Linked DNA regions of Homo sapiens: region 1 is linked to region 2. Evidence: fine-mapped QTL for protein levels in blood plasma. Region 2 holds a variant in brackets. A gene starts in the other region. All regions are shown on their forward strands.

The links. A credible set is the group of variants that fine-mapping cannot tell apart. PIP is the chance, under the fine-mapping model, that this variant and not a neighbour inherited with it causes the effect. The UK Biobank Pharma Proteomics Project read protein levels with antibody pairs (Olink). The fine-mapping took linkage between variants from a reference panel, not from the people measured, so its PIPs are less certain.
Region 1: it holds the start of LAMB1, and the variant in region 2 is the best candidate, but not a certain one, in a credible set for the plasma level of the LAMB1 protein (UK Biobank, PIP 0.52).

What each region holds. Positions count from the first base shown.
Region 1 is chr7:108,000,183-108,005,505 of GRCh38, forward strand. LAMB1 (laminin subunit beta 1) reads right to left here and starts at 2,979. Exons shown (of 34, transcript NM_002291.3): 1 at 2,929-2,979; 2 at 2,667-2,789; 3 at 1,376-1,551. The coding sequence starts at 2,703. RefSeq lists an enhancer at 817-1,417.
Region 2 is chr15:36,986,473-36,991,784 of GRCh38, forward strand. All of the region lies in intron 8 of MEIS2 (Meis homeobox 2), which reads right to left. Among named protein-coding and RNA genes, the nearest start is that of MIR8063, 16 kb to the left of the region's middle. The variant CT/C (reference allele first, on the strand shown) is at 4,169.

The DNA.
Region 1 (5,323 bases), not on the chromosome of region 2:
ACAATCACCAGAACTCAAAAAAAAAAAAAGTTTAAAAAAGTTTAATTACAGCCTCCCTTCTAATCAGGAGGAAGCAGTCTAGACATCTCTGTATAAACCTGGAAGCAAATGAACGGAATCCACTTTACCACATTCCTTTGGTCTAATTGATCAGGTCTCCAGAATGGGCTTTCTGCTTTGTAAAAGTGACTCCATTTTAAGGGATCTGCTGTGCAAACCACACACAATACTCTGTCCTCCTTCTGAAGGGCAATTGTACAGGTGGGTGGGCTGACCATGTTCTGAGCAATTAGCTTGGAACTTGCCCCGAATGTGAAACTGATACTTTCTGCTTTTGTTAGAGGCCAGAAATATCAGCCTTTATTTAAAAAAATTTTTTGAGACAGGGTCTCCCTTTGTTGATCAAGCTGGAATGCAGTGGACTGATTATCGCTTACTGCAGCCTCGACCTACTGGGCTCAAGTGATCCTCCCACCTCAGCCTCCCAGACAGCTGGGACCACAGGTGTGGACCACCACGCCCAGCTAAGTTTTAAAAATTTTTTGTAGAGACTGAGTCTATGTTGTCCAGGCTGGTCTTGAACACTTGGGCTCCAGTGATCCTCCCACCTCAGCCTCCCTAAGTGCTGGGATTACAGGCATGGAGCCATTTTGCTCCCGGCCAGCCTCCTTTTTAAAAATGAAGGAAAAGTATTCTGATTCTGAATATTTTACACTTTGTGTCTTCTTTTAAAATTACTTTTGACTTTGTATAAATATGACCCCTGAAATCTAAAATTTGGGCCCTCTTTTAGAAACAGGTAACACCCTGAAATTTCACTGTGGTCTTCCTGTATCAGGGTACCATGGCAACCAGGGCATTTCGTAAAAGCAAGCATCTGATCCTGATATCTAGTTGGGAACAGCACCAAATGAGGAGAGGAAAACGGGTTCGTTCAGTGATTGGAATCACCTTGCAAGACGCCTGTCATTGCTGGAATCCTCTTTACCCAAGTGAAGATGCGGTAGAGGGGGGTGGGGAAACCCAAGGGTTTTAAAAAGAGGATAAATCACCTTTAATGCACACTTCCAAAACTAAAGTTTTAAAAAACACACACACAATCAGGCCTTTTGGAGGCTCTGGGTCAGGGCAGCCAGGGCTGTCGGCAGTCCTGCCTTTCCATACTCACCGCGCCGGCAGGAAATGTGTGGCGGATGCAACTGTGCAAACTGAGATGGGGCGAAAGGTTGAGCTACAAGCCTAATCCCGGGACTCCCCGGCTGGCTGCGCTTCCTATCTGGATTGCTGGAAGGATGCGGAGTCCCCAGGGCCTGCCCCTTAGGTCTGGACGGGAGGAGGCGCTAGCAGAGCCTCGAACCCCGCTCTCAGCCCTCACCTGCAAGTGGCTGACGATACAGTAGGGTTCGGGCTTGTGCAGCCCGCACGTCGAGGTCACCGAAAGCTTCTGTGCTCGGCCGATGAGAAGGTCGCCCGTGGCGGGATAGCAGCTGCCTTCTGCGCAGCCGTAGCTGAACTCGGGTTCCTGAGCGCGCACTCGGGCTCTGCACAGGGCTGCGGGAAGGACAGGCAACAGAGTTGGGGGGACACAAGCAGGGAGTGGAGCCCGAAAAAAACGAACAAGCGGGGGCGGGGGAGTGGGTGCGGAGAGAGGACAGTCCATTCGGAAGAAAGCAAAATGCACAGAAAAGACAATGGAGAGATGAGCGCAGGAGAGGCTGGGAAGGCAGGGACTCCGAAAGGAGAAGGACACGGAAAGAAACCCACACACGTCATCAGGTCTGTCCAGCAGCGAGAGCCTCCCTCCCGGGAAACCCACCGACGCTCGCGCCCACCCTGATCAGCCCCGGGGAGCAGCTCCCCCAACAAAGGGTGGATGTGTAGACCCTCCACTTCGACGTGTCCGGAGCCCGGCGCAGGGAGGCTGACCCCCAAAGGGCCACACACCCACGCACGTGAACCCGCGTGCACGCGGCAGCCCGCGCATCCTCGGTGTGAGTGTGCGCGTGGAGATCTGTGAGCTTGGGAAGCGAGAGTGCGTGTGCGTGCACGCGCGAGGGTCACCGGCGCTTCGCTGGGGACGAGGCGCCGGGGCTCGCGGTGGACGCCGCTTTCCGGAGCTAGGGGAGCCCATGGACAGTCCCTGGGGCTCTGGAGTGGTTTCAAGGCTTCTCCATTCCAGGGAAGCGCCAGGTCCTGCTGTTTCTGGTGCCATCCGGAGACAAACAGAGATGGTTAATTAAAGCCACATGGCCCCCATCTGTTCCCAGAATGAAGCCTCCGCTCAGCTCAGGCACTCTCCTGGGCAATGGATTTTTGGAGAGCCCTCCTCGGTCAGCACCGCCAACCCCAGGGAACCTGCCCTCTGCGGTGGGGAAACCCAGGGTGAACCGGCCGAGGGTGCAAAACCCTGAGCGGGGGCCGCGGGAGGCCGCAGGGGCCGGGGCTTGGGCGCAGAGCCCGGGGGATGAGGGTCCGCGGCGCTCCGCGTGCGCTGTCTCCAGCCACCACCGAAGCAAGGGCGGTGGCGTTTAATCCCAGGGGCGTCATTTCCATCCAGTCCCTCTCCCAAGCCCCCAGGATCCCACGAAGGTGAGCAAGCAGCTTTTGGGTTTTCCTTCCCCATGCCCAAGTCCGTCCGCCTCCCCGCACCGTTTCCACGGAATTACCTAAGAAACTGAAAGCTAGCAACTGGAGAAGCCCCATGCCGGCTCCCTGCAGCCACGGGGACGCGGCAGAGGAGTGGAGAAGACGCCCGCCGAGCCGCCTGCCCTTTCTTCCCGTCTTCCTTTCTGGAGAGGTGGAAAGGAGGGGAAAAAAGGCAAATGTTCAAAGAGAGAAGAGGCGCCCTTCCATTTCCTGTCGCTCCCACGGAAGCGGGGGGTGGGCTGGAAAGTGGGGAAAATCGTGCAGCCACTTTGTTCTCCTCACCCGGCGACGCGAGCTCTCGCCCTGCTCCGGGAGCCCCCGAGCCCAAAGAAGGGAATTAGAAAGTTTAGCCTTGGGAGGAACAGAGGGAGGCGCCTCTGCTCATGCGCATACGGAGAGCCGGGGCTGAAGGGGCGGGCGGCCGCAACTCTGCGAGGACCGGGTGAGGTCCCGGTCCCACCCCCCGGGGCGCCTCTTTTGTTTGAAAGCCGAATCTGCGATCGCTGCGGGGCTGGGGCGCTTCCAGGTCCCAGGGCGGGTCCGCCCCGGGGTGCGCGTCCCAGAACGGCGCGCGGCGGGGCCGTCCAGCGAGGGGGGCGGATGCGTGGGGGCGTCTCCGAGGTGGGTTTTCAGGTTGCCCAGCCAGGGGGCCGGCGGGACCTACCGCGGACTCGCGCATTTACGTTCGCAAGAAGTGAATCACCAAACGTGCCCACGGCTAAAACTCTCGTGCGGTGCGCTCGGGGAAGGCGGGTTAACCCTTTAGAAACAGGGTCGACCTGTCGTGTTTGTTCTTTAGAAAGTGACACTTCCTCTCCGCCCCTAGTATCCAAGAGCTTGGGATGGGCGCGACATCTACAGTGTCTTCCTAGGAAGGAGGAGAAGCTCTGTGCGCCCTGCAATTCTTTGCGCACACATTTATTCAGGACCTATCTGTAATCCCTGTTACCCAGGTGGTCACGGCATTGAATTGAACGTCCAGTTCTGTTTTTAAAAAATCTACTTCCAACATGGTGCAACTCCATCTCTACTAAAAATACAAAAATTAGCTGGGCGTGGTGGCGGGCGCCTGTAATCCCAGCTACTCGGGAGGCCGAGGCACGAAAATCGCTTGAACCTGGGAGAAGGAGGTTGCCGTGAACCGGGATCGTGCCATTGCACTCCAGCCTGGGCAACAAGAGCAAAACTACGTCTCAAAAAAAAAAAAAAATCTTCCTACCTATATCCAGATGATGGCTTTAGCTCAGGTAATTCCTCAAATGACACTATTATTGTTACTGACTCCGTTTCCCATCTCGCCGTGGAAGAGTTGACACAGCCAGGAAGTGGAAATCTCTCATGAGAGGCACTTCCCCACAACGCTCATCTCGACGATTCTCCATGGTGTGCAAATGCTGAGGTGGGGAGAGGGCCTCTAATGAAGGGTCTCTAACAACACAGTGTAACCTGCCTGGTGAAATTAGGGGTACATAGAAACTCACCACCTTCTAGGGGTTGGAGAGGGAAAAGAGGTTGGTGACGGGACCCCACCACCCATTCTGCTACCCTTAGCAATGGACAGAGTCAAAGCTTGGAGTCCTGCTCTGGGCAAATGTGGCTGGAATTCAGGGAGTATAGTTAGTTGTCAGTCCAGTCAGGAGACTTGGCTTGTTTTCCAGTCATTTCCGGGAGAAGAGTTTAAGCGGCTAGCTGGTCAGTTTTTAACTTAGCTGTAACGAAATAAGGCCCAGAGAAGTTTAATCATTAGACCATAGAGTCAGCTGCTTTACGAGTTCGTAAGCCTGCACGAGTCTGAGGCAGGCGGGAGCCTTGGGGTCTAGGTGAGTGAGGCATTAATTATTCACCAAATCAGCACTTGCCCTGCTACAGCCTGGGGAGGTTTTGCCTCTGCTGAGGCTTAGGATCCTCTGCGCCGGCTGGGTAGCCTGAAAGCGCTGAGAAAGTCCTTGCTGTTGGGAGGCTGTAGAATTGCAATGGAGGGTCTTCAGGGCTTAATTAAAAGAAAAATATTAAAAGGCAAATGTCTTTTCTTCCTGTTGAGCTTTTAATACCCTGGGCCAGAGTTTCGTATTTTCATGTGCACACACTGCAAGCATCTTTCAGCTCCTTTTCTTTCTTGAGCCTAACCTCTGCTCTCACAGCAGCTGAGCCCTCCTTGCTACCTGTCCCTGCTCAGCGTCCTCTCCCCTTGCAAAAGGTCATTTACTTTCAGCACTGTTCAGAAGCCTACCTGCTCTCCTGATCACCTCACTTGCAGTAGTAAATTGAACACTACTGAGAAAATTAGGTTTTTAAAAATTTGCCTGTATATGTGCAGGGGGAGGAGTGTGTGTAACACTCACCTTCTGACCACTTCATCTATGAATTTGCCTACCTCCCTTCCCACCTGTATCTTTTGTGCTTCTCTCCTAGAAGTGTGCCCTCCTCTCATCTACTAAGTTCAGTGCTCTCATATACTTGCTCAGCCTCCTCCTGTTTTAAGTAAAAACAACACAAACTCTACATTGTATGGAATCAAAGCTTGAGCTCTGGAGATTTGCTCATGGAATCAAAGATTGAGCTAAGGAGAAAAGAGTTTCAAGAGGGAGATCTTGAAGCATAAGCCACAGAGATCAAATAAGATCACAATGGGAAAATGTCCATTGCATTCAGCAATTAGAAAGCCAAGGGTGGCCAG
Region 2 (5,312 bases):
AGCAATGGTACTTTACTCTGGCAGCTACACAGTTGGTTCCGGCTTCCAGCTTCCTTCAGTGCTCCCAGAGTCAACTTCATTACTCTCACGGGTATCACAAGTAGTCTGGCAGTTCTCTCCTCAGAGATCTGAGGCCCAGCTCCTGAGGTATCAATCCCAGCACTAGCTGGGTGGCTTCCTTTCTCAGAGGACCGAGTCCCAACTCCACAAGGCTCCTCCTCTGGCCTTCTAGGATCTGCTGACCCCCACCTTTTCCTTTTGTCCTCTCAGCCCTAGAGAAGGTAACGGCTTTCAAAAGCGTTATCTTGTTTCCATTGTGTTCTGTTTTGCTTTTTAAGATTACTAATGTCCCTTTCACCAAATGCCTATGTTGAATGCTCTCTGTGAAAATAACTAGTGTGATTTCTGTTTTCTGACTGGACTGTAACTATTACACAGGATGCTTTCACAAAATATCTGTGAGCATAAACATTTCAGGAAGCCAGGCCAAGGGGTGTGTGGAAGGTATGCTTGGAGATATGCTTGATGATGGTAAAGTGTGTACCCCAAGATTTAGATAAGAAAATAAAACTTTCTGGACTACAGTACTGCCAGATCACTCAGTGTGGGGTGGGGTGTGTGTGGTAGAGAGTACACACAAGGAAATGGGAGATGGTCAGGTGCCACGGCTCACAGCTATAATCCCAGAACTTTGGGAGGCCAAGGCGGGTGGATCACTCAAATCCAGGAGTTTGAGATGAGCCTGGGCAACATGGCAAAACCCTGTCTCTACAAAAAGTACAAAAATTAGCCAGGCTTGGTGGTACATGCCTGTAGTCGCAGCTACTTGGGAGGCTAAGGCAAGAGGATCATTTGAACCTGGTATGCAGAGGTTGCAGTGAGCCAAGATTGTGCCTCTGCACTCCAGTGTGGGCAACGGAGCAAGACCCTGTCTCAAAAAAAAAAAAAAAAAAAAAAATTGTAGATTTCAAAGGTAAACTTCTAAAACTTAGAAATTTTACCTGCAGCAAGCCCTTCTTGGGGTGAAATGACACTGGTTGTAAACTTTTCAAAGGGAAGTCAGAATCAGGTTGGAGTTCTTAAGAAGAGCAGTGTCTTTCATGGGCTGGGGTGAAATTATGATAAAATGAACTGGCTAAATAAATGGTCACTGAAAATGAGACCAACTCTATCATAAGACACTTAATAACATCATAACACTTTGATGGCAAAGAAAAGGCATGTCAGCTGAGGGGCTGAAAGTCCCTTAGTTCCTTTTCTGTTCACAGGGATCATCTTCATCTGATCTAAATGAATCTCAGCTATGACCAGTTTTTTTTTTTTTTAAACACTTGATTCAGTCACCAAACTGACCACTGGGATTAAATCAAAGAAGACGTAACACTCAGTTTCAATGTTGAGAATACTGTTTGCATTGAACATCAGATCTATACAAAATTTTGGTTCAGCTCTTTTACAATTTTTGATAGGTATAATATTTTACTTTAGAAATGCTCATTCATGTCACTGGAACAACATTTTAGACTCTTAAAAATGCCACAGAGTTGCAGTTATGCAGGATGAAAAAGTCTAGAGATCTAATGAGGACTATAGTTAATCATGTTGGATTGTATACTGGAAATTTGCCAGGAGTAGATTTGAGGTTCTCTTACCACAAAAACAAAGCAAAAATAAGAAAAGAAAGGCAACTATATGAGATGATGGATATAACAATTTGCTTGACTGCACTAATCACTATATATATGTGTATCAAAACATCATGTCATATACCTTGTATATAATAAAGCTTTTTTTAAAGGCCAAATACTTATTATTATCCAAATGAGTCACATCAGATTCTTTTTTGAGGGGAGGAAACTTTATCCTTTGGGGAACCCCAAATCAGTATGTTTTCCTTGTTTATCTATTTCTTAATTGTATTCCAAATACGAGTTCAGAGACAATGAATGTTAGCTGACATTCCTGTCACTTGGCTTGATAAACCCTTCAGACAGCAAAAATATTGTTATTTCTTACAAGGGTCCTCTCTAGACAATTGCTATGACTTTACTTGTTATAATAGATAACAGTCCTGAGGAAAATAGTTTGCCTTGGCCCAGGATAGAATACCTTAAGGCACACTGCATAAGTCATTACATAGTGGATTTGTAGAAAGAAGGAAAAGATTTATTAAAGCAGAAATTTACAATAAATACCCATTAGCTATGGAAATATCTTAAAACAATAACCATCAACCATTCTTTCATAGGAAGATAACTCTTTTCTGTCTCTTCAATTCAATGAGATGTTCAAGATTTGGCAGTTCCCCCAAACAATAATTTGCATTCATCTAAGAATTTCTGAAGCATTTTAAGAGGGTTAATTCATTATCTTTTATAATATAACCAAAACTTACTTATTACTAGATCATCTTATCCCTTCTGCATGGAACAAGACACGAAAGTAACATACAGAGGAAAATCTTGCATTAAGAAATGAAAAAAGGCTAGCAAGAAAAAAGGATGGGGTCCTGTTTTGTAGATATTGAGATCCACCAGTGATTACAAAGACAGCCAGCTTCTATAAACACATCTTTAATTAATCCTTTAACTGTCAGACTTCAAAACACCACCATTAAAATAATATTTCTTCTTATCTTCAGTGCTTGACATTTCCTTCATTTGCTGACTCATTAACCATCAGAAAACATGCTAAACACAAAGAGTCATGTTCTTTGAGAGTTAACAAGTCAGGACAGAACTAGAGAGGTTAAGTGACCAGTTAGACAATTTGGAGGAAGAACCAAACTAAAGCTCATGGTTTTCCTGTAAATTTTCAGCCCAGTGGGATTTCTGCTTGCACTGCCACTGCCCAGCTGCCACCTTATCATGCAAGTGACCTAACTCTGTCATTTATATGCTCATGACAGTATTCGCGTTTGAAAATACAAGAGGTTTAGGTTTGGTGTAGGTTCGGCTTGGGAGGGTAGTAATATTTGCCTTCAGGACTTCTTCTTTCAGCTTCAATTCCCTTGCATACTCGTGTGGACTTCTAGTCACACAGGGTCAGCTCGGACTACAACTGCCTTAGGCCCAGATATGGTCTCTGCCCAAGGTTCCTTTACTTCTCCCAAGCCATCAAAACTCTTCCCTGAGATCTTCTCTTTGAAAATGAATGTTAACATTGGTCCAATCACATAAATATAGCTACTATTACAACTCTAGCAGTGATACTGCACTTCTATTACTACGGGCTAACTCATGTTTACAGAACTATGTGCCACATTTCACATAATGGAATAGCTTAATTGTTGGTTTACCAGCACTTATTTGGCAGTTGCCAGATGTTTGTTGACCATTACATGACAGTTGTTTCTGTAGTGTAAGTACAGTGTAGCAACATGCCAGCTTACTTGTTGGTAGTCCCCATTAGGCTGTAGGTCACTTGAAGTGGGGGCATTGTATCTTCATTTGGAAGCAGTTTTGTTTGTTTGTTTGTTTGTTTGTTTTTTGAGACAGAGTCTCACTCTGTCGCCCAGGCTGGAGTGCAGTGGCACAATCTCGGCTAACTGCAAGCTCCGCCTCCCGGGTTCATGCCATTCTCCTGCCTCAGCCTCCCAAGTAGCTGGGACTACAGGCGCCCGCCACCACGCCCAGCTAAATTTTTTGTATTTTTAGTAGAGACAGGGTTTCACCATGTTAGCCAGGATGGTCTTGATCTCCTGACCTCGTGACCCGCCCACCTCGGCCTCCCAAAGTGCTGGGATTACAGGCATGAGCCACCGCGCCCGGCCTGGAAGCAGTTATTTTTGTACACACTCCCCAAAGAAAACAGTTTGATTTAAAGTTTAAATGTATTGATTCAATGAGTAAGTGAATCCACACTTTGTTGAATCTGCAGAAAAAAAAAAAACTTTGTCTAATATTAAATCAGCCAATAGAGCTAGTGTGGAAATTATAAATTTGTTACTATTAAAATAAATGATAATTTTGAGTGACTAAGCTGTGAATGGAGTCTCTTGTTCACTTAAATCATTTTCAAAGTACTTCCTTTTGGCATATCTGGAAACATTTTATTTGAAATTATTATTTTGGTTTGAATTTTTACCTATCAAAAGAACTAGTCAAAAAAGAAAGATGAAAGAAGGCACTAAGTATATACAGTTTATTGGTATAGTTTAGTGGGCTTT[CT/C]TTTTTTTTTACAGCTTTAAGATGTAATTCACATAACATACAATGGACCAATTTAAAGTGCACGATTTGATGTACTTAAGTATATTGTAGATTTTAAAAAGAAGCAAAAACTTAACATTTTTAGTACAATAATTTCAAGTGTGAGTGCCAGAAAGGGGGATAGGGCTTTTCAGGAAAAAAAAAAGACTGATATTGAGAGCTATTAGATAAATTTTCTTCTGAGGGAGGATTTGAACCTCTGAAAATCTAGGAAATGTAAATCCAAAATGTGCTAAACACAAGACTATTAGGCTTTTTCCTGAAATGAATAAATGAATGTGAGCTTTTGCCTCTTTATTTTCTGTGAGTCAAGGGCATGTATAACTATTTTTCAGCTTTACCTCATGAAAGCTCTGAGCTTTCCCTTCATGTTAAAATATATTATTTAACATTTGAGTATGTCAACACCACATTAGGCACTTTAAAGTACAGAATTAGCCATGCTTCCTACTCAGGGGACTTGTCTACTAAGCATCAGACTAAAGCAAAATGCTCTAGAATTCCCTCACATCAAGCAATCCATAGAGTGATATTTTCCCTTAATTCTTCTGTAAAATCAATGAGATTTTTCTCTCTTTTTTTTTTTTGTGCAAACTCAAAGGAACACTCTTTGATTTAACATATACCTTTAGAAGTTCTGTTTGGCACATTCCACATCTTATTCTTTTATCATGGGACAGAATCAGTGACTACATCTAAAATTAGGCCTATTAAATGTGGTTTCTGTCACAAAGCAAAAGGAGTTCCCATTTTCACTAATTCTGTCATCACCTACATTATTGTAGGTGGGATATTTAAACAAATGAGAGCTTATTTCTCTCATGCATCTTCATAGGGTACACTAACTTAATAAGGTTGATGGTATAATGCAGTGAGAGAGCCTGAAGAAAATAAATACAAAATGCTTTGATCTAGGCATACTTTTGCAGTGTAAAAATAGTTGGAAGTAAAATTTTTAATTATGCTATAGTCTAGGATGCTTTGTGAGCATTAGAAATATAAGGCAAGTACAAAGTATTAACTCTTAAAGCTATCAGGCTACACTCTTTAATCTAAGATGATTAAAAGTACATATTAAAGTGTTAATTTTCTTTTTTTTTTTCT